Regions from separate parts of the Homo sapiens genome. Here region 1 is linked to region 2. Evidence: fine-mapped expression QTL. Tissue or cell type: esophagus muscle. Region 2 holds a variant in brackets; the other region holds the start of a gene. All regions are shown on one strand. Distances are from middle to middle.

Evidence for each region. PIP is the estimated chance that this variant, and not a neighbour inherited with it, causes the effect.
Region 1: it holds the start of THBS4-AS1, and the variant in region 2 is fine-mapped to the expression of THBS4-AS1 in esophagus muscle (GTEx, PIP 0.95).

What each region holds. Positions count from the first base shown.
Region 1 is chr5:80,080,513-80,085,665 of GRCh38, reverse strand. THBS4-AS1 (THBS4 antisense RNA 1) reads left to right here and starts at 2,001. Exons shown (of 8, transcript NR_109930.1): 1 at 2,001-2,166; 2 at 3,129-3,306. It overlaps THBS4 (thrombospondin 4), which reads right to left. Exons shown (of 22, transcript NM_003248.6): 21 at 3,121-3,260; 22 at 2,379-2,586. The coding sequence ends at 2,525. RefSeq lists silencers at 1,273-1,487, 2,603-2,692.
Region 2 is chr5:79,994,643-79,999,795 of GRCh38, reverse strand. It overlaps a transcript of THBS4 not described here. Among named protein-coding and RNA genes, the nearest start is that of MTX3, 6.0 kb to the right of the region's middle. The variant T/C (reference allele first, on the strand shown) is at 2,390.

The DNA.
Region 1 (5,153 bases), 86 kb before region 2:
ATACTAGTTGGTGAGAGACTGATGGCCACTCAGTCCTAGAGGTGTAAGATTCAAATGAGGCTCTTACTAACCTAATGGAACTGTAATAGGAATTTGAGTCATTGTGCTAAGGTTGAGTATAACAAGTATCCAAGAAGCCCAGGGAGTTACCTGGGGGAGAGCATACCACACCTGCTAGCTCATCCCGTCAGTCTGCAACTGGCTAGCTTCTCTCAAGTGCTTCCTGATTTTCACTTTTTTTTTTTTTTGTTTTTGTTTTTGGAGACACGTCTTGCTCTGTCGCCCAGGCTGGAGTGCAGTGGCACGATCTCAGCTCACTGCAACCTCCGCCTCCCGGGTTCAAGAGATTCTTGTGCTTCAGCCACCTGAGGAGCTGGGAGTATAGGCAGGAGCCACTGCACCTGGCCTAATTTTTGTATTTTTAGTAGAGATGGGGTTTTACCATGTTGGCCAGACTGGTCCCAAACTCCTGACCTCAAGCGATCCTCCCACCTAGGCCTCCCAAAGTGCTAGGATTACAGGTGTGAGCCATAGCACCCCACCCATTTTCACTTTTCTTACTTCATTTCTTATGCAAGAAATTTTCTGAAAGCCTCAAGTTTTCTACATCAGCTTCAAAAATATAAGGAGGGCCAACTAGGAATAGGACAAGGTAGAATAATCACTTGTGTGCTGATAAATATTTAACAACCAGTTCTCTGGAGCCCTGATTTGTAGTGTTTGCCAGTTTCTGTGTAAATACTCCCACCATGGCCAATTTCAAACTACCAACCGTTTAACTGGCTCACAATATTCCTAAAACTTGAATAGTTGGCTCTTATGAGCTGGTAGGAGTTGGCTTCAGCACACTGCTGGTTCTACATGCGTCTTTGTTTCTTGTTTTGCATAAATAACAAGTTTTGTCTTCCCAAAAATGTAATAAGCTCCCTAAGGGATGGAATTATGTTCTGGATCTCCTGTGGGCCCATGGTTTCTAAAATAGTTATAGACACAAAAGATTTAACCAAGAGAGTCTGTTTCCTGTGGACATACTGCGTTCTTGGGCTTGCACAGCCGACAACAGGGAGGCTGCCCCAGGGGTGGGCATGGTGTGGGTTGCTGCCTCCTTTCACCAGCCTCACTCTCATTGCCCAGGCTGGAGTACAGTGGTGCAATCTCTGCTCACTGCAGCCTCTGCCTCCCCAGCTCAAGTGATTCTCCCACTTCAACCTCCCAAATAGCTGGGACTATAGGCAAGTGGCACCACACCTGGCTAATTTTTGTATTTTTAGTAGAGATGGGTTTCGCCACGTTGGCCAGGCTGGTCTTGAACTCCTGGCCTCAAGTGATCTGCCTGCCTTGGCCTCCCAAAGTGCTTGGGACCACAGGCAAGTGCCACCACACCTGGCCCCATTGGAGTTTTTGATGTAGGAGATCAGATGTCCTGGATTACAAGGCCACACACATCTCCAGGCTGTACATGAGAGGAGGATGTCCAGAAATCCTCCAGATCTCATGCATGCACCATTGTATTTTCTCACTGTTAAAGTCATGATAAAACTGTGGTGTTTTTTTCTTCATACATGATTTAATATATCTCTAGGAATTCTGGAATAAGAAAATATATAACCGCACAGCAATATTCTTTGAAACAAAATTTCTAGAGAATTTATAAAAATTTGCTTGGATCTTGATTTACAATTGAAATACAAGAAAGGCTAGTGTACAAATTAGGCAAGTTTCTGTGCTGTACATCCAGCTACTGGTACCACAAATAGAGGATATGTTGTGACTTTTTGAGTTGAGGAGGACTTTTATGATCATGTACACTCTACTGTCCTTTAAGAGGCATTCATTCATTCATTCTTCGTTTATTAATTCAGTAAACATTTACTGGCTATTTACTACATTCCAGGTACTGTGGGGATATTGATTGTAATGACATGATCCTTTATTGTCAATATGCTTACAGTCCACTAGGGGGAGCCAAATATATAAATAAGCTTAAGAATTACGTTGAAGGGGCCAGAATAGAAGTCTGTGGAAGGTGTGGGATGGGATGACAGCATCAGAAAGAATTGGGCAAATCTGTCCCAGGACTAGGTCAGAAAAACGCCTCCCTAGGGAAGGTGCCACCCCAAACACGTGTTTCTGAGACCCCTTACCCGAAATAAGGAGGCTGCCAAGGTGAGCATGGAACGGTTAGGCGTTTTGTATGGAGCAAACTGGGGGGACCCCAGCTGAGACCTCTGGCCTGGGCCTTGTGATTCACGCATAGGCTCATCTTATCGGCCACCGGGTCTGAGAAGAAACTACCACCCTGCAAGTTAACAGGGATCCCTCCGAGAACGGGCACCTCAAAGCCTGAGCCACGTGAGAGCAATGTCTGAGCAACACGGTTTTTAAAAATGATCTCTTCTCCTTTATTGCCACATTCACATAAAACGTTTTGATATATTTGGGTTGGTAAAAGCTAAAGAAAATTGAAGTTAAAATATATATGGTTTTAGTGTTCCGAAAAGCAGTTACAGATTGCTTCCTTGGTTTAATTATCGAAGCGGTCGAAATTCTGGGTTTGAAACTCTTGGAAGTCCTCAGGGATGGTGTCTGCAATAGGAATGGGCACAGGGAGGTTAGCGAGGCTCCTTCCACCCCGGACCCCGGACCCCCGCCCGCGGCTCAGGCGTCCTGTAGGGGGCGCTGTTAGCCCGCCCAGGACGCCCCGCAGGCCCTCGCCGCCATTTTCTCCTGCAGGCTGCTTTGCAAACCGTTGGCTTAAAGCCCAGGAGTGCTCCTTCCCGGCCGTGCAGAAAATCAGCAGGCAGAATGGATTTTGCATCTGTGATTATGTTTTAACCACATGAAAATAAAGGCTTCCTGTAAATTAAATCTGACTGGATTTCTCACTGAACCCCAAACCCTAAACCATGCAGTTAAATTCTATGGGTCTTAATTTCCACATGGATAAAATAGGATAAATGTGATCTGCTTTTTACTTCTGGTACACAGGGACTATCAGGTTTTAATGACTATGTGGTATGAGCGTTGGGCTTTTGGGGGGGAAGTGCGGTATAAAAATAAGGTGGCAGTGTTTGACTAATTCTAGTAACAATGTTGAACAGTAACGAGAATGCACATTACCATTGCAGCGATACTTGAGGTTGGACCAGATGATGTTTTCTTGAGAGAAGCAGAAAACGCCAAGTCGGCCTCCACGCATTGTGGTGTCTATGGTGACGCCAGAGTCAGCCACCAACTCAGAGCCTTCATAAAATCGTACCCTGCGGACAACACGGCCGGAGGGGCCTCCATGAAATCCAACCCGGGGTAAAGTGCCCACTGTGAGGCCCAGGGGCCCCACTTCTTATACGTACCTGCGTCTTTCTTTGCTCTGTTTTAGGCTCCATTTTTCGCTGACCTGGATTGTACTGTAGCTGTTGCCACTTACTTACTAGACTGGAAGTCCTTGAGGGCAGGGACCGTGTGTGTCCGTGTGTGTGTGGAGGGGGGTGGGGGGTGTTTCTTCCCAACTTCTGTCTCTCACAAGGCCTAACATGATGTTGGTCACACTATCAAACTTGAGTTAAAAATCAAACCAAACCAAACCTGCTATCTTGAGTGAGAAAGTTTTGTGTCTTATTGTCATGTGAGTTGCCTTGTCTAGATACCATGCTTAAAAACTTTGGCTTTTCCTTTGGTCTGATTTATATCTTTTGGTGGAATCTCAGAGCAATGATTCTCCACAGGAGACAGCACTCCCTAAGTAGAGTTGGAGGAATCTGTGGGGACACTTTGGGTTGTCACAGTGGCACTGAGTGATGGCAGCCAGGGATGCTGGATGGCGAGCAATGCCCTGGCGAGAACAATCAAAACCTGTCCTGCATTCCATACACTTCTGGAGTGTTCCTCAGACACCAGGGTAGGTAAAGAGCAACTATCAGGGCCTAGAACCTGACTCACTTTCACTTGTAAACAGCAAGTATATTTTGCACAAATTTTAATATAAACTATATTTTCCAGGGTAAATTGAGAAAATTTGTTTGAAAATTAACATTCTAAAATGTGTACCATTTGAGAAATTTACATTGCTGTCATCAACCAGTGTAACAAACATTTAAGTCACTGACACAACAGTCTGTTAGAATGTCACCTTCGTAGTGATTCTAGGCATGGGTGCAAGTGTCTGTTTCATTTTGTCTTCTGGTGTGGCTGTGCTCAAATATTTAAATTATTTTGTTATAAATTATTCTTATTTCTCTATGATATTGTTAGGGCTCACATTGATTTTCTAGATTATACGTGTAGGTAGGTTGTAATTTCTATGATTCCATTTTGGGACGGAAAAGGGGGCATTTCAAAATATTTATAATAAAAAAGGGGCATTGGGCTTAATAGGGCTGAGAACATGATCATCTCACTGTGAGACAAAAAGAGTACATTTGACATAATGTCACAAAGAGAAACAAAACATGAATTTGCCCTCATGATTTTCTTTTTTCCACAAGGCTGCTTTCCTGCCCTGATGAGGAGAATGCACTCAGTACTCCTTCCTAAATATCCTACATAGGCTAGGATGGGTGTTGATCTGCAAGTTCAAATGAAGAAGAACACTATCTACATTTCAAAGACACAGCCCTAAGCCTCCTAACTCCCGAGAATACTTAAAAAACAACAACAAAAAAGTCCTATAAAGAAAGAAGTCAGACTACTTTGGCCTACATGATGATCAGTTCATGCCACGTGTAGTAGATGTCAGGCTTTGTGCTAGGCACTGGGGAGATCAAGATAAAATAATAAGCTATGGCTAGGCACAGTGGCCCATGCCTGTAATCCCAGCACTTTGGGAGGCCGAGGCGGGTGGATCACGAGGTCAGGAGATCAAGACCAGCCTGGCCAGCATGGTGAAACCCCATCTCTACTAAAAATACAAAAATTAGCCTGGCGTGATGGCGCGTGCCTGTAATCCCAGCTACTCGGGAGGCTGAGGCAGAAGAATCACTTGAACCAGGAAGGCGGAGGTTGCAGTGAGCTGAGATCACGCCACAGTACTCCTGCCTGGCAACAGAGTGGGATTCCGTCTCCAAAAAAAAAAAAAAAAAAAAAAAAAGATACAAGCGCTGCTCTCATGCAGTTTGTGATCCAGCAGGGAAGACAGACTGTAAGGGACATAGTGC
Region 2 (5,153 bases):
ACCAGATATATCTCATTTTACACAACTGACATGATTGTGGATTGAGAGAATTTTTATATATGGACTATTTTTAAATGCTAGGAGACTTTGCTGTTTAAAGCGATTTATGTATAAAGCAAAGAATCCTCCAATAATGAATCTTTCCTCAGGCAAATTTTAAAATGGCAGCATTTCACAAGGCAGGATTTATTTGTTCTTCATTATCGATGGCAGCCTATTAATCTGGAAAAGTAATATAACTCCCTATAAACAATACACATAATGACTTAAGTTCTGAAAATAAGATCATTTTATACACTCATTTTTAAACATTTCAGAAAATGGGATCATATCCATAACTTTTTCAATTACTACCATAAAAAAAGGAGGCATGTGAATTTACTATTTTTGCTCCCTAGTAGACTTGGCTAATCCAATGGAGGAAATATGAATAAATACATCTATTTTTTCCTGTTTGGTGTAAACAAATAAAGCTTGATATAATTATTCCTCACAGGGATAGTATAAGAAATGGATAAGCTATAAACTGTTAATGGGTTTAGAATTATAGTAATTCTTATTATGCCATAGCCCTTAATTTTAGTAATATGGCTGTAAGAACTATTGATCCAGCAAATATACATATATTCAAACAAAGCGTTTTAATATATTGCTTTTTTTTCTTAAAGAAAACTTTGAAATGTATCTTTAGCCAAACAGAGAATGCTGGATTGTTTGTAGTTTATATTAAGGATTCCAGTGATTTCCAAGGTTGACTGAATCCCAGGGGTGTAGTGGGGTTACCCAGTCCTAAGATGATTTCCTGGAGAGCATCTTTACTCCCGGCTGTCCATCCTTATTCATTGTTACTGATTCTAGAGAGCCATGTGGCCACTGAACATAGCTCAGCATCACTTCTGGGAAAACATTTAAATGGCATGGTCTTGCTGATGAAAAGATGTCCGAAATACAAAGTTCCATGAAGGCAGATGGTCCACATTTTTAGCTGCCATCTGGTTGAATGCTCTGGATATTTCATGTGCCCATTTTTTGCATCACATGCCATTACATTACCTTTAATTCTTTTTAAAAACATCTAATTTCAATTAAGTATAGACTCACAGGAAGTTGTAAAATAAATGTACAGGGATGTTTCCCCCAATTGTAACATCTACTGTAACTATTGTACGATATTAAAATCATGAAAATGACATTGGTACAAACCACAGAGTTCATTCAGATTTCACCAATTTTGGGTCTGGGTCTACGTCTGTGTTGCTATGTCTCTTTTTCCTTATAAGGTCACCTTTATTAGGCTGTTATCACATTGCTACAAAGGAATACCTGAAACTGGGTAATTTATGAAGAAAAGAGGTTTAATTGACTCACAACTCCACAGGCTCTACAGGAAACATGGCTGAGGGGGTCTCAGAAAACTTACGATCATGGTGGAAGGCGAAGGCAAAGCAGGCACGTCCCACACAGCTGGAGCAGGAGGAAGAGAGAGAAAGGGGAGATGCGACACATGTTCAAACAACCAGGACTCATGAGAACTCATTATTATGAGAACAGTAAGGGTGGAATCCCTCCTTGATCCAATCACCTCCCATTAGGCCCCTCCTCCAACAGTGGGGATTACAATTCGACATGTGATTTGGGCAGGGACACAAATCCAAACCATATCAGTTACCAATCACTGGATTTGCAGTCTATCCTAATCCAGTATGATTGGGTTGTTTTCTTGTTGTAAGTTTTAAGAGTTATTTGTATGTTTTGGACCCAAGTCCTTTAACAGATATATGTTTTGCAAATTTTTTTCTCCCAGTCTGTGGCTTCTTGTCATTCTCTTAATAGGAAATGTTGTATTTTTATTATCAATTGTATATATTTCTTTTCTGTTGACACTTCCTCTCTGACCCACTGATTACGTAGAAGTATGTTAATTTCCAAGTTTTTGGAGATTTTACTGTTATCTTTCTGTTATTGACTTCTAGTTTAATTCCAGCACAGTCAAGTAATATATTCTGCATTATTTCATTAAAAACTTTTGTTGAGGTTTGCTTTATGACTCATAATAGCCTACTTTGGTGAATGTTATATAGGCTCTTAAAAATAATGTATGTTCTGCTGTCACTGGGTGGGGCATTCCATAAATGTCTATTAGATCCTGTTGTTTAATTCATCTATATCTTTGCTTATTTTTTGTCCAGTAGTTCTATCAATTGCTGAGTGTCGGGTATAACTATAGCTTATGTTATAGTTAAAATTATGGATTTGTCTATTTCTTCTTTCACCTCTATCAGTTTTTGCTTCATGTATTTTGAAGCACTGTTGTTTGGTGCACACATTTGGGATTAATATGTTGTCTTGTGGACTGATCCATTTATCATTATGTAATGTCCTTCATATA[T/C]ACACACACACACACACATACACGCATACTACTTTTTTTTTCCTGATCAATGTTTGCATGGTATAACTTTTCCATCCTTTTAGGTTCCATCTACCAATGTCATGTTTGAAGGAAGTTTCTGAGGGACAGCATACATTTAGCTTAGGTTTTTTATCCACTCTGCCAATTTCTGTCTTTTAATTGGTGTATTGAGATCAACTTTACATTTAGAATAAGTCTTGGTATTTTAGGATTTAAGCCTGCCATTTTGTTACCTGTTTTCTGTTTATTCTCAACTTCTCATCTCTCTGACTACCTCCCCACTTCCAACCTATCACTCCCCTGCTGGCCCCTTGCTTTCTTGTGGGTTACTTGGACTTAAAAAAAAAAAAAAAAACTATTTTGATTTATTTAGTATTTTTGAGTATATCACTTGTATAGTTCTCTTAGTGGCTACTCTCAGTATTATAATATACATATTTAACATCACAGTCTATTGGTATATTAGGTTTTACCACTTTGAGTGAAGTATAGAAATAAGGCTTCCGTTATTTCCATTATTTACTTCCATTATAAGGTCCTTATTTCCACCTAGGACCCTTTACAAACCTCATTTTTTAAGTATAATTGTCCTATTTCCTCAACATAAATTCAGCACAATGTCAGATTATAATATTCTCATTTTGGTTTCATTTAATTCTTTTTCATACAAAAGACAGCAGGTTTACTATGCTGGAGGAGCAAAATGAATCCCTATCAGTATATATTACTGCCTGATCACCTTCACATAGCTACCAAATACATGAACTTGGCTTTTTATGCTTCTGGGTAACAAAGTATCTTTAGAGGAAGCCACACAACTGTACAAATTTAGCTAGACGTCAGGATGGCTGAGCCCCCATCATGCTGAAGCTACAGAGTTCATCTTCTTTCAATTCCTGGGGCAACTCCTAGGGTACCATCCCTCTTCTATCATCCTCAGGACCAACTTTTAAGTGGTACTAAAATCCGGATTTCCAAATAAAACTTTTAAAATAATTGGTAAAATATAAATTGATCTTGTTACATTCTGGGGCCAACTTTATTTCCATTTAAAAAAACTGAATGAATATTTAAAGAATATCTGTTTAAAGAGGCACCTAATCATTAGCCTGCCCATGGCTCTCCCTTGATTTATCGCCTTAATACTAATTTACATTTGACCTTTACGACTGTCAGCAATGCTCCCATTTACTTTTTATTAACCCCTGATATAGTCTCTAAATTATTCCGCCTTTTTTTTTGTGTGTATGTGTGACAGAGTCACTCTGTTGCCCAGGCTGGAGTGCAGTGGTACGATCTTAGCTCACTGCAACCTCTGCCACCTGGGTTCAAGCGACTGTCTTGCCTCAGCCTCCTGAGTAGCTGGGATTACAGGTGTGCGCCACCACATCCAGCTAATTTTTTTTTTTTTTTAGTAGAGATTGTGTTTTACCATGTTGGCCAGGCTGGTCTGGAACTCCTGACCTCAAGTGATCCTCAAGTGGTCTGCCTGCCTTGGCCTCCCAAAATTCTGGGATTACAGGTGTGAGCCACTGTGCCCAGCTGTCTTTTTAAAGCCCCAATCTCTTTCTCTCAGGCACTTTTATTTTTTTTCTAATGTAATAGGGAAATTTGAAGGTAACTGATTTATCTACTCAGCATCCCATAGTTCCCCTTGAAACTTCCTCCAGTGTCAGAAAGAGAGCATGTCTCTCATTTTCAATGCCTGCCAGCCCCGCTGCTCAAGCTCCGGATCTCAGCCTCAACTCTTAGGGCAATTTCTAGGATCCCATCCTTCTTCTCTCCAGCATCTTCAGACTTTTACTCATAATAGCCAATTTTGTCCTCATATGTGTGTAGATTCACCATGTCGTCTCTTTCAAAAACTTTGAGTCTTTCAGTCCTGTCCCATTTCTCTTCTTCCTTTATCAGTCATATTCCTCATGCTCTTAGACCTGTCCTTATCGTTTATACCCTTTTCTCCAGTAATCCCTTGCCACTGGATTTCTAACAACCTCCTCTATCAAAAATGCTCAGCGGAAGGGTGCCAAGTGACCTTCCTCCAATAATATTCAGCAGCATTTTCCACCACACTTTTACTTTATTTAATATAGTTTATGGGTTTATAAAATGCTTCTTCTTATAATGTCCATGTAACAATAGCTGTCTACCTCCCATCCTTGACTATGTAAATCCACTAATATTGTATTTGGACTTTTACTTGTCTTTACTTTCTCAAAACTATAAATTCCCATGCCTTCCAATTCTGGTTCTCAAGTTAGTCAACCAATACTCTCCCTGAGCAGTCTCCAGCTTATAACCAAACCCAGCATTCGTTTACTCATCTTCAGATTCCTTGCCATAGTCAGTCCTGTTTCTATGCCTTCACTTATATAGCACAGCCCATATGCAATGCCTTACTCTGTGCCAATCTAAATGCAACGTACCCACCCTTCGAGATCAGCTATCATCTTCTTTCATTAGGCCTTTGCCAAGCATTGCAGTACATTCAAGCCTTTGTCTAAAACCATACTAGACTTGTCTTCTTGACAAAATGGTACTTCCTAATAGTCTCTAGTTAGTTCAAATATGTGGGCCTTGTTTCATCAACTGTGCCTCTAAAAGCTTGAACATAAGTTTTTGCACAATCACGGCTCACTGCAATCTTCTCCTCCTGGGCTCAAGCCATCCTCCCGCCTCAGCCTCCCAAGTAGCTGAGACTATAGGCACACACCATCATGCCCAGCTATAATTTTTGTGTTTC